2 separate regions of the Homo sapiens genome follow, and region 1 is linked to region 2. The links come from fine-mapping of genetic effects on gene expression. Tissue or cell type: whole blood. Region 2 holds a variant in brackets; the other region holds the start of a gene. All regions are shown on one strand. Distances are from middle to middle. Region 1 holds the start of THADA (THADA armadillo repeat containing). Region 2 overlaps THADA (THADA armadillo repeat containing).

Region 1 (5,391 bases), 82 kb after region 2:
AGGGAATAGATTTATTTGTCTACTACAGACTTTTTTTTTTTTTTTTTTTTTGAGACGGAGTCTTGCTCCTTCGCCCATGCTGGAGTGCAGTGGCGCGATCTGCGCTCACTGCAAGCTCAGCCTCCTGGGTTCAGGCCATTCTCCTGCCTCAGCCTCCCGAGTAGCTGGGACTACAGGCGCCCGCCACCACGCCCGGCTAATTTTTTCTATTTTTAGTAGAGACGGGGTTTCATCATGTTAGCCAGGATGGTCTCGATCTCCTGACCTCGTGATCCACCCACCTCGGCCCCCCAAAGTGCTGGGATTACAGGCGTGAGCCACCGCGCCCAGCCTTAGACTTCTTGTCTTGCTATTAGATTAGTAAAAGTCAGTACAAGCTACAGGGAAACAGATTCCAGATCAATACAAAGGAAAAGCTCTATGGTCCCACTAAGGACTGGGCTACCTTTTAAACAAAGAAATTTTCCAACACCAGGAATATTCAAAGAGAAGATGACTGAATATTTTCTCTTGGACTCCTGAAACAGCTCCCTAACTGGTCTCCTGACTTCTACACTTACCTCCAAAGAGCCCATTCTGTTTACAATCATCAAAGCAATCTCTTTAAAAAAAACTCTCATCAAATTGAATTACTTACTCTCTTCCTTAAAACTTTCCAAGGGTTTCTAAATACACTTAGAATAAAATTCAAACTTGAGGCCAGGAGTGGGGGCTCGTGCCTGTAATCCCAGCACTTTGGGAGGCCGAGGCGGGTGGATCTCCTGAAGTCAGGAGTTCAAGACCAGCCTGGCCAACATGGTGAAACCCCGTCTGCACTAACTAAAAATACAAAAATTAGCCGGGTGTGGTGGCAGGCGCCTATAACCCCAGCTACTCCGGAGGCTGAGGCAGGAGAATGGCTTGAACCCAGGAGGCAGAGGTTGCAGTGAGCCGAGATCGTGCCACTGCACTCCAGCCTGGGAGACAAGAGCGAAACTCCATCTCAAATAAATAAATAAATAAATAAATAAATAAATACTTGAGATTTTGCCCTTCAAGGCCCTAAATAATCTGACCCTGCCTTCCTCCACTCTTCATCTCAAACCAATCTCCTCTTCACCATCTCAAGAGCTTTGTACTTCCTGATGCTCTTATTCCCACCTAAGAGGCTTTACACTTCTCAGTATCTCTGCCCCTTAATGTTCATTCCACATCTTTGCAAGACTGACTCCTTCTCACCATTCATGTTTCTGCTGCAACATTACCTTCTAAAAGCCTTCCATGACCACTCTATCTAAAATCTCACCAATACAACACACGTAGACACCATTTCCGTTAATTTTCTTCATAGCACTTACTAGTACCAGAAATTACCCTAACTTGTAAATTTGTATATTGTCTGTCTCACCTAGTAGCAAACTGAATGAAGGCAGCAACTTTAATCTATTTTGTTCATGTTTCAAGTCTCAATTTCCAAACCAGTGCCTGGCACATAGTAGGTGTTTAACAAACACTTCACGAATAAACAAATTAATTAACAAACATTTGTCAGAGATGTTCTAGAAGGGATATATGTCTTTAAGGGCAGGAAGGTGGACTATCTGGTACCTAAAATGCATTCTACATCTAAGTGACATTCTACATCTTAAGAACCTATGGTCTGTTTGGGAAGTAAGAAATCCATACAGTAATGGCAGGTGAGCAACCACTTAACCAAAAATGGACGCAGCTAGGAAAGTGTCGACAACAGAATAATTTGTAAAGGGATAGTCAGATCTAGAGGAATAGAGGCACGCTTCCTAAGAAAGTGACCATCGTACAAAGCCAGAAGAGACTGGGAAACCTAACTAGGGAGACTATTCTCTGGTGAAAGGTAAGCAAGTTTGCAGGAGGATTTGCTCTTGCAATTCTGAGGGCTACACAAAAGCAGACTCGGTAATTATGCCTGCTCAAATGATGCCTAAACGTGTGTCCTGAAGAACCAGGGTCCCCAAGGGGGTAAATCCCGTGTCTACCGCAAGGCCAGAAGGTGCCCAGTAAATTACACTCCTCCTAGGTCCCACTTACTGCTTCCCTTTAGAACGCTGCTTCACTCTACACCTTCCTGGCTGACTCCCACAAACATTCTCTGGGCGATTTCTGAACCACGTGGAGTCGAGGAATGACAGTGGGAGAAAGTGGTTAAAGTGCTGTCTCCATGGAGACCTTAGCGACCGGAAATCAGTTTCACAGCCGCCGAATCCTGGCGATACCAAAGGATGGGAATTGGTGTGGCTCGCCAGGCAGCCCTAGCAAAACTGGCCGAGCCGAGCTACCGCGGGTCTGGCAGGCAGGACACCTGGGAGCCAAACCTCGTGCACGTCGGCGTCTGAGAAGAGTCGCAGGCGCCTGGTCCAGTCCCGGAAGCAGGTCTCCTTCTACGGCGTCTCCGAGGCTCGCAGCGCGGTCCACGGTCGACTACCGGGTCAGGGCAAAGGGAGGGAGAGAGGGGTAACCTGGAGGAGTCATCGCGAGAATTGACCAAACGCAGCTCCTCCAATCAGGAGTTCGAGGAGGTCGTGACGTCACCGGGGTGGCCGGTAGCAATCCGGTTTAGTTAACCAGCCACTGTACCGTCAGCGCCGCGCGTTCCTCATGGCGTTAGGGCTGACGGGCCTTGTTGCTGAGGGGCCTTCATTCAACGGTCTCTTGTTGAATGAAAAGACCTCATTCTCTTCACATGCTTGGACGCCTGGGAAGCGCTTTTCTCCCAATCCAGACCTTCCACCTTTCTCCCACTCTGTTGGCCCAGTGCAGAGTCTAGGAGAAAACTACGTCTGGGACTCGGGAACGAGTCCAGGGAGTTTAGAGCCTGCGAGATGGGGCAGGGGTTTGGGCGGCGACTGAACGGAAGCCACGAGAAGGATTCGGACTAAAATGAGTAGTGCTGAACCAACGTGTGCCAAAGCGCATATATTCATTCAATAGATAATGAACTCTACTGTCAGAGCGTCGCCAAGCGCTAGCCTTGAAAGCTATCCCCTACTGAGGATACATGTATTACGCAGCACATACAAATTGTCAGATGGTTCAGTCCTTGAAAAATAAATACAATAACGGGGTGTCACTGGGAGCTGCGACAGTGGGCAAGATCAGGAAAGACCTGATGCTATTATCAGGAGTATTAATTTGGAAAATAGAGACATTTCAGTTCTCTAAACGTTAATGACTTAAGTTTTTAATAATTATTTTCTGAATTTTTTATATCAGCTTGCCTTGGTTTTCTTTATAGCTTTACCACATAATGTATGTATCACTATCTTGTTTCGTTCAATTTTGAAGCTTTTGGAATTGCGTATGTATTCTCCAGCAATTTGCTTCTTTCAGCATTGCTTTTCATATTCACCTACAGGTGGCTGTAGTGCTCTTCGCCCAGGCTGGAGTGCAGTGGCGCGATCTCGGCTCACTGCAAACTCTGCCTCCCGGGTTCAAGTGATTCTCCTGCCTCAGCCTCCTAAGTAACCGGGATTACAGGCGCGCGCCACCACGCTCAGCTAATTTTTGTATTTTTTAGTGGAGACGGGGTTTCACCATGTTGCTCATGCTGGTCTTGAACTCCTGACCTCGTGATTCGCCCGCCTCGGTCTCCAAAAGTGCTGGGATTACAGGCGTGAGCCATGGCGCCCGGACCGTAATTTTCCATTGTTTAATATACTTCATTATGTATCCATCCTGCTGCCTCTTAACATGTGCATTATTTCCAGTTTTTGTTCTAAACATTGCTGCTGTGAACTATGTTGTGCATGTCAGCTGGTGAGTGTGTGCAGACGGTTCTCCACCATAATTTTTTCTGGTATTTTTGACCCTGACATAGTAAGAAATACATTGCAGACTTTGAAACTGTGGACGTAGAAGTACTCACACATAACTGAAGTAAAAATTTCTTGAAATGCTACTTTACAGGAGCTGTGAGATTTTATTTCCTTTTTTTCTAAATTATGGTAAAATACACAGCAAAATTTACCATTTTAACCATTTTTAAGTTTTATGTTTTTTAAAATATGTATATTGTTTCAGACCTACTAATTATATAACTCAGTGGGTCCGAACCCCTTTTTTGTTGGCAGACACTGCAACTCTTCACCCTGCACAGCGAGAGGTGGGCTAGGGAGCAAACATAATAAACATATGTTGAAAGGTGAAGCTACTGTTAAAACTTCAGACAAATTAAACTTAACAGGGTTTAATTGAGCAAGGGGAAAAATGATTCTCAAATCGGGCAGTCTCCAGAATCATAGCAGATTCAGAGAGACTCCAGGGATGCCTCGTGGTCAGAGCACATTTACAGACAAAGAAAGGAAAGTGATGTACAAAAAGCAAGTGAGGTACGGAAGCAGCTGGATGGGTTACAGCTTGGCATTTGCCTTACCTGAACACAGTTTGAACAGTAAGCATTGTATGAATAGTTGAAGTATGGCTGCTGGGATTGGCTGAAACTCAGCTATTGTTACAGAAGCACACTCCTAAATTAGGCTTTCAGTCTTGTCTACCTACTAAGTTAGGTTATGGTTCATCCACAAGGACTCAAATATGGAAGTGCAGAGGCTTTCTCAGGCGGTATTTAGTTCAATTTAACACCGCCATGGAAAAAATAGGGGAATGGAAAGTGAGAGTATAGGGGAGGTACATTGCAACTTTAAATAGGGTAATCAGGGTAGGCCTCACTGAGTAAAGATTTCCAAGAGACATAGACACTTGGTGAAGGGGAAACCTTCCATACAGAGGGAACAGCCAGTACAAAGTTTCCAGGGCAGGGCTTGCCTGCTGGGAGAATAGCAAGGAGGCAAGAGTGGCCGGAGCCAAGCAAGGTAAATACTAAGGAGTGGGACAAGGGGCTTTGGATTATATAAGGCTTTCACATTATTTCATGGACTCTTTCATGAAATGAGGAGTGATTTTGAGCAAAAGAATAATAACATCTAATGTACATTTCAAAATAATCACTGGAGCTACTTTGTTAAGAAGAGACTGTAGGTCGGACGCGGTGGCTCACGCCTGTAATCCCAACGCTTTGGGAGGCTGAGGCGGGTGGATCACCTGAGCTCAGAAGTTCAAGACCACCCTGGGGAACATGGTGAAACCTCGTCTCTACAAAAATGCAAAAAAAAAATTAGCTGGGCATGATGTTGTGTGCCTGTAGTCGCAGCTACTCGGGAGGCTGAGGCACGAGAATTGCTTGAGCCCCAGAGGCAGAGGTTGCAGTGAGCTAGCATTGCGCCACTGCACTCCAGCTTGAGCTGCAGAGTGAGACTCCGTCACAAAACAGAAAAAAAAATAAAAGACTGTAGAGCCTGCAGGAAGCCCAGTGAGGCTGTTGTGGTAAACTAGGCAGGCAGGATGCTGGTGGCACTGACCAGGGTGGTAGCAGTGGAG
Region 2 (5,391 bases):
ACTAAGGGGAAGAACGAACTGCAGGACATGAGAGGTACTTTCCTATTTCCTTAATTTCCTAAGTGTGCTGAAATACAAATACACTAAATACTAGTTCAATAATGCTCCTCAACTGTCAGTGGGCCTCCCCTGGGCCTCCCTGAGTGAGCCCGCAGAGGCTGTGGCAAAACCAACCACTCCAAGAAGGCAGGTCTGGAATGAGAGTAGAACATCTCACTATGCATCACCCTTCCCTGCATGAACTTTCAGTGGCTCTTGACTATTAACCAAATCATCTAACTCCTCTTCTAACTTTGTCAAACTCTCCTAGCTTGAAAGGTTGCCTATGACCTGGACCCAACCCTCCTACTTAAATCTAACCTTAACTTTTCCAAGTTCCTACACAAACTCCTCTGGTCTAGTAAGACTGTTTTTTGCTGGTTCTCATACTAACATACAACACACACACCTCATATTCCCAACTAAGCATTCGTTTATGGTCTCCACACATATCCCTATTCATCCAAACTGATGAAACTTCCTCCAAATACTGCATCTCACGAGGACTTTTCCTTTCTCTAAACTTCCAATTAACTTGAAGCAACTACTAGGTATTAGGCGTACATGGGATCAGTACAGTGTCATGGAAGGGCTGGAATCTGAACTAGACTTTGAAGGACATGTAGGTCGAATGGTGGAAGGTCCATATATGAGAGCTGAGGAAGTAAAAGATGAGATGACTGGGGAAAGAGCTAGGTCAAGGCCCCAGAGGCAATTCCCTAATTTAAACACTTGGCTAGTATAACTGTAAACAGTGAACTGGGCCTATTTATTCCCTTGAGTATTGCATACTAAGAACCAAATGCTCCTTGTTAATTTGCAGAATTTGAAAACAGAGGCCAGAAGAATGCTCTACAAGGTCAAGGCTGGCAAAATGCCATCGATAGAGCCATCTCTGCCCACTGCACCATGGACCCAGGAACCTCATGAGCTCTGGGAAATGCTCAAGGCACCAGCTCCTACCATCTAGTCCAAACCTTCTTATTCTGCTCTGGAATTCCCCAGCATCAAACCAGCTTTTACGCAGAATTCTTTACTTATCTGGTTTCCAGTGTGAACTCTACCACCGGTTCCCATTCCTCTGATTCCCTTGCTTCTCAGCTCTGCACCTCTCCCAGGCAAGTCCTGACCTCAAAGCCATACAAGGGAATTTGGTCCAATAATGGAACTTCCACCCTCCCTTTTTACTAAAATTAAACATACTACATTTTAAACAAAATCTACTTACAAGTTTTTTGTTTGTTTGTTTTTGTTTTGTTTTGTTTTTGAGACGAAATTTCACTCTTCTTGCCCAGGTTGGAGTGCAATGGCGCGATCTTGCCTCACTGCAACCTCCGCCTCCCAGATTCAAGTGATTCTCCTGCCTCAGCCTCCTGAGTAGCTGGGATTACAGGCATGGGCCACCACGCCCAGCTAACTTTGTATTTTTAGTAGAGATGGGGTTTCCCCATGTTGGTCGGGCTGATCTCGAACTCCCAACCTCAGGTGATCCGCCTGCCTCGGCCTCCCAAAGTGCTGGGATTACAGGCGTGAGCCACCGCACCCGGCCACAAGTTTTATTTAAACTATCATACTGGAAATATATTTGCCTGCCACAAAGGAAAGAAAAACAAATATTCGTTGGATGTCTATTACACGTCTGGTACGACACCAGGCTTTTCACAGCTGCTCTTACTTCATTCTTGGAACAAACTATGAGAAAGTTATTTTTCCCAACTAACAGATGAGAGGGAATATATCACAGTGGTTAGGAACACAGATTATGGACCCGTGTTATCTGGTTTAGAATCCTTTCTCTGCTACCTAGTAGCTGTACAATCCAAGGCAATTTACTAAATTTCTCCATTTTCTCACTTTGCTCTTCTATAAAATGACAGTTTTTGGAAGGATTGAGTTTGTTCTTATGTCTAATAAGTTCTTAATGGTCATTTTCTAAAATCATCGGTTATTATGAGAAAAGCAAGTATTAAAAGTTTCAATTGAAATGATAGAGATGAAACAGCTGAGTTTCCATTTTGACAGGACATCCCCCTACAATGCAAGTTAATGTTAACAATATGCAAAATATACAAATAGAAACCCCAAAACCAGCTGAGTCCAAAAGCAAGATAATCATCTGGGTAAAAATGAACAGAAATGCAAAGTAGTGAGTGTGCTGATACCAGAGACCCAAGAGTTACAGATTTAGAAGCAGTAGTGGCAGCCAAAGAATTTCAGCAGCCTCATCTCTTTTGAGAAGAACCTGAAAAAGGGCTACTGCCAGAGCTGCCTGAGGCTGTAGCAGTAGGAAAAGCCAAGGGCACAGGGGGCCTCTGAATCAGGCTGACTACTAACTCAGTGACTAGATCTATGATATCCCCAATTTCACTGTGAAGGGGGACACCCAAAATACCACTACCTAATCTAGTTCCTCTGATAGAGAGGAAAGAGCCTAGAAAGAGATCAGTAAACAAAAGGCTCCCATCATAGCCAGTGAGCCAAAATTCAAAATATAGAAATAAATTTTATATTAAGAAAGACAACCTAAAAAAATCAGTAATAACACACATTCACTCTATATGAAACTAATTTTATGGAGCAGTCTGACAAAAACCTTAAAATAACTATGTTTAGGATACTGAAGTGATAAATAAGGGAATAACTTCTATTTAAGAAGAGTTAACTGGGCATGGTGGCTCACATCTGTAGTCTCAGCAACTCAGGAGGCTAAAGCAGGAAGATCACTTGAGCCCAGGAATTCAGGGCTACAGTGAGTTATGATGACACCACTAGACTCCAGTGTGGATGACACAGTGAGACACTGTCCCTTAAAAAAAAAAAAAATAAAGAACAAGAAATCATGAAAAACAAGCCGTAGTGAAATAAGAACAGGCATGTATAAAAATAAAAAAGACTAGAAATAAAAGTGTACTTTCAGCCAAGCACGGTGGCTCACGCCTGTAATCCCAGCACTTTGGAAGGACGAGGCAGGCAGATCACGTGAGCTCTGGAGTTTGAGACCAGCCTGGGCAACATGGTGAAACACTATCTCTACAAAAAAATACAAAAATTAGCTGGGCATGGTGGCACTTGCCTGTAGTCTCAGCTACTTGGGAGGCTGAGGTGGGAGGATCGCTTGAGCCCAAGAGGCAGAGGTTGCAGTGAGCTGAGATCATGCCAAGGCACTCCAGCCTGGGTGACAGAGTGAGACCCTGTCTTAAAAAA[T/A]ATATATATAATATATAATATATATAATATACATAATATATACGTATATTTTATATATAATATATAATATACATAATATGTATATTTTATACACAATATAAATAATATACATAACATATATGTATATTTTATATATGTATATTTTATATATATTTTATATATTTTATATATATGTATATTTTATATATAATATATATATTGTATATAATAATATATAATATATTATATTATATATAATATATATAATATATATATAAATATATATTATATATAATATGTATAATATATAATATTTTATATATAATATGTATAATATATATTTTATATATAATAATATGTACAATATATATTTTATATATAATAATATGTACAATATATATTTTATATATAATAATATGTACAATATATATTTTATGTATAATATGTATAATATATATTTTATGTATAATATATATTTTATGTATAATATATATTTTACGTATATTTTATATATAATATATAATATTTTATATATAATATATAACATTTTATATATAATATATAATATTATATATATTATATATTTTATATATAATATATATAAATATATATATTTTATATATAATATATTTTATATATAATATATATAAATATATATATTATATATAATATATTTTATATATAATATATTTTATATATAATATATAATATATTTTATATATTATATATAATATATTATATATTATATATAATATATTATATATAATATATAATATATAATATATTATATATAATATATAATATATAATATATTATATATAATATATAATATATAATATATAATATATTATATATAATATATAATATGTAATATATAATATTTTATATATAATATATAATATAATATATAATATTTTATATATAATATATAATATATAATATATAATATTTTATATATAATATATATAAACTATATATACACACACACATATAAAACAGATAAGATGAATTCTAACGAATTCGTGACTTAGAAGATAGTTTTCTGGGAAATTTACCCAAAACAGTATACAGAATGAAAAAACCATAAAGTATGTGTGTGTATATACATAACGATAGTTCCATACCTGGAAAAAGCATAGCAAAATTGTGATTAATAAAAAAACTTACAAGCCACAGGAGATTTAAAGGAAAAAAAACTGGAGATCTACAAAGGAACATCAATTATACCAAACACAAGTTTCTCACTGGCAATAACAAAAGCAGTGAAGGAAAACAACTGTCCACCAGAATTGTATACCCCGTTAAAGTACATTCAAAAGCATAGGTAAGAAAAAGACAATCTGAAATATACAAAGATTAAGTCTGCCTTCCAGAGACTCTCACCAAAAGAAATTCTAAAGGATGTACTTCAACAAAGTACACCTAAAGTAGTTTCAATGGGGTGTCTACTAGACATGCCAAACTTAACATGCCCCAAACTAAACTCCTGATCTTCCTCCAAAAACCTACTCTACCCACAGTCTTGCCCATCCTAATAAAAGAATAACAAATCGATCTCTTCAGGGGCTCAAGCCAAAAACTTTGTAGTTATGCTCTCTCTCTCAAATAGCAAATCTAATCTGTCAACAAACCTTGCCTGCTCTATCTTCACGTTACATCCAGATTCAGATCACGTTTTACTTCCTCCACCACTTTCCAAGTCATCACTATCTCTTTTCTGTAGTATAGCAATATTGTAACTAATCGGTCTTTCTGTTTTCACTATTATAGTCTATTATCAACACAGAAGTAAGAGTAATCCTTTTAAAAGATGAGATCATGTCACTCCTCTGTTCACAAACACTCCAATGGCTCCCCATTTTACTCAGAGTAAAAGCCAAAGTTCTTACACAATGTCTTAGGCTGTCTAGTCCTCACAACTTCTCTGATCTCATCTACAACTCTTTCCTATGCTCACACTACTCCAGTCATAATTGGTTTACCTGATGTTCCTTAAATACCTACCCTAAGCCCAAGCCTCTCAGGACTTTTTCACCTGACATTCTCTCTGCCGTGAATACTCTTCCTCCAGGTATTTACATCGTGGTTGTACAACTGCTAATTTTAGTATTCACTATACCTTCTAGTACATGCAAATATTTCACACTAATGTTTAAAAATTGGGTAAAA

What was found.
Region 1: THADA starts here. The variant in region 2 is fine-mapped to the expression of THADA in whole blood (INTERVAL, PIP above 0.99).

What each region holds. Positions count from the first base shown.
Region 1 is chr2:43,593,601-43,598,991 of GRCh38, forward strand. THADA (THADA armadillo repeat containing) reads right to left here and starts at 2,438. Exons shown (of 38, transcript NM_022065.5): 1 at 2,331-2,438.
Region 2 is chr2:43,511,214-43,516,604 of GRCh38, forward strand. The region is part of intron 22 of THADA (THADA armadillo repeat containing); the gene reads right to left. Among named protein-coding and RNA genes, the nearest start is that of THADA, 82 kb to the right of the region's middle. RefSeq lists enhancers at 2,166-2,215, 2,226-2,275. The variant T/A (reference allele first, on the strand shown) is at 3,244.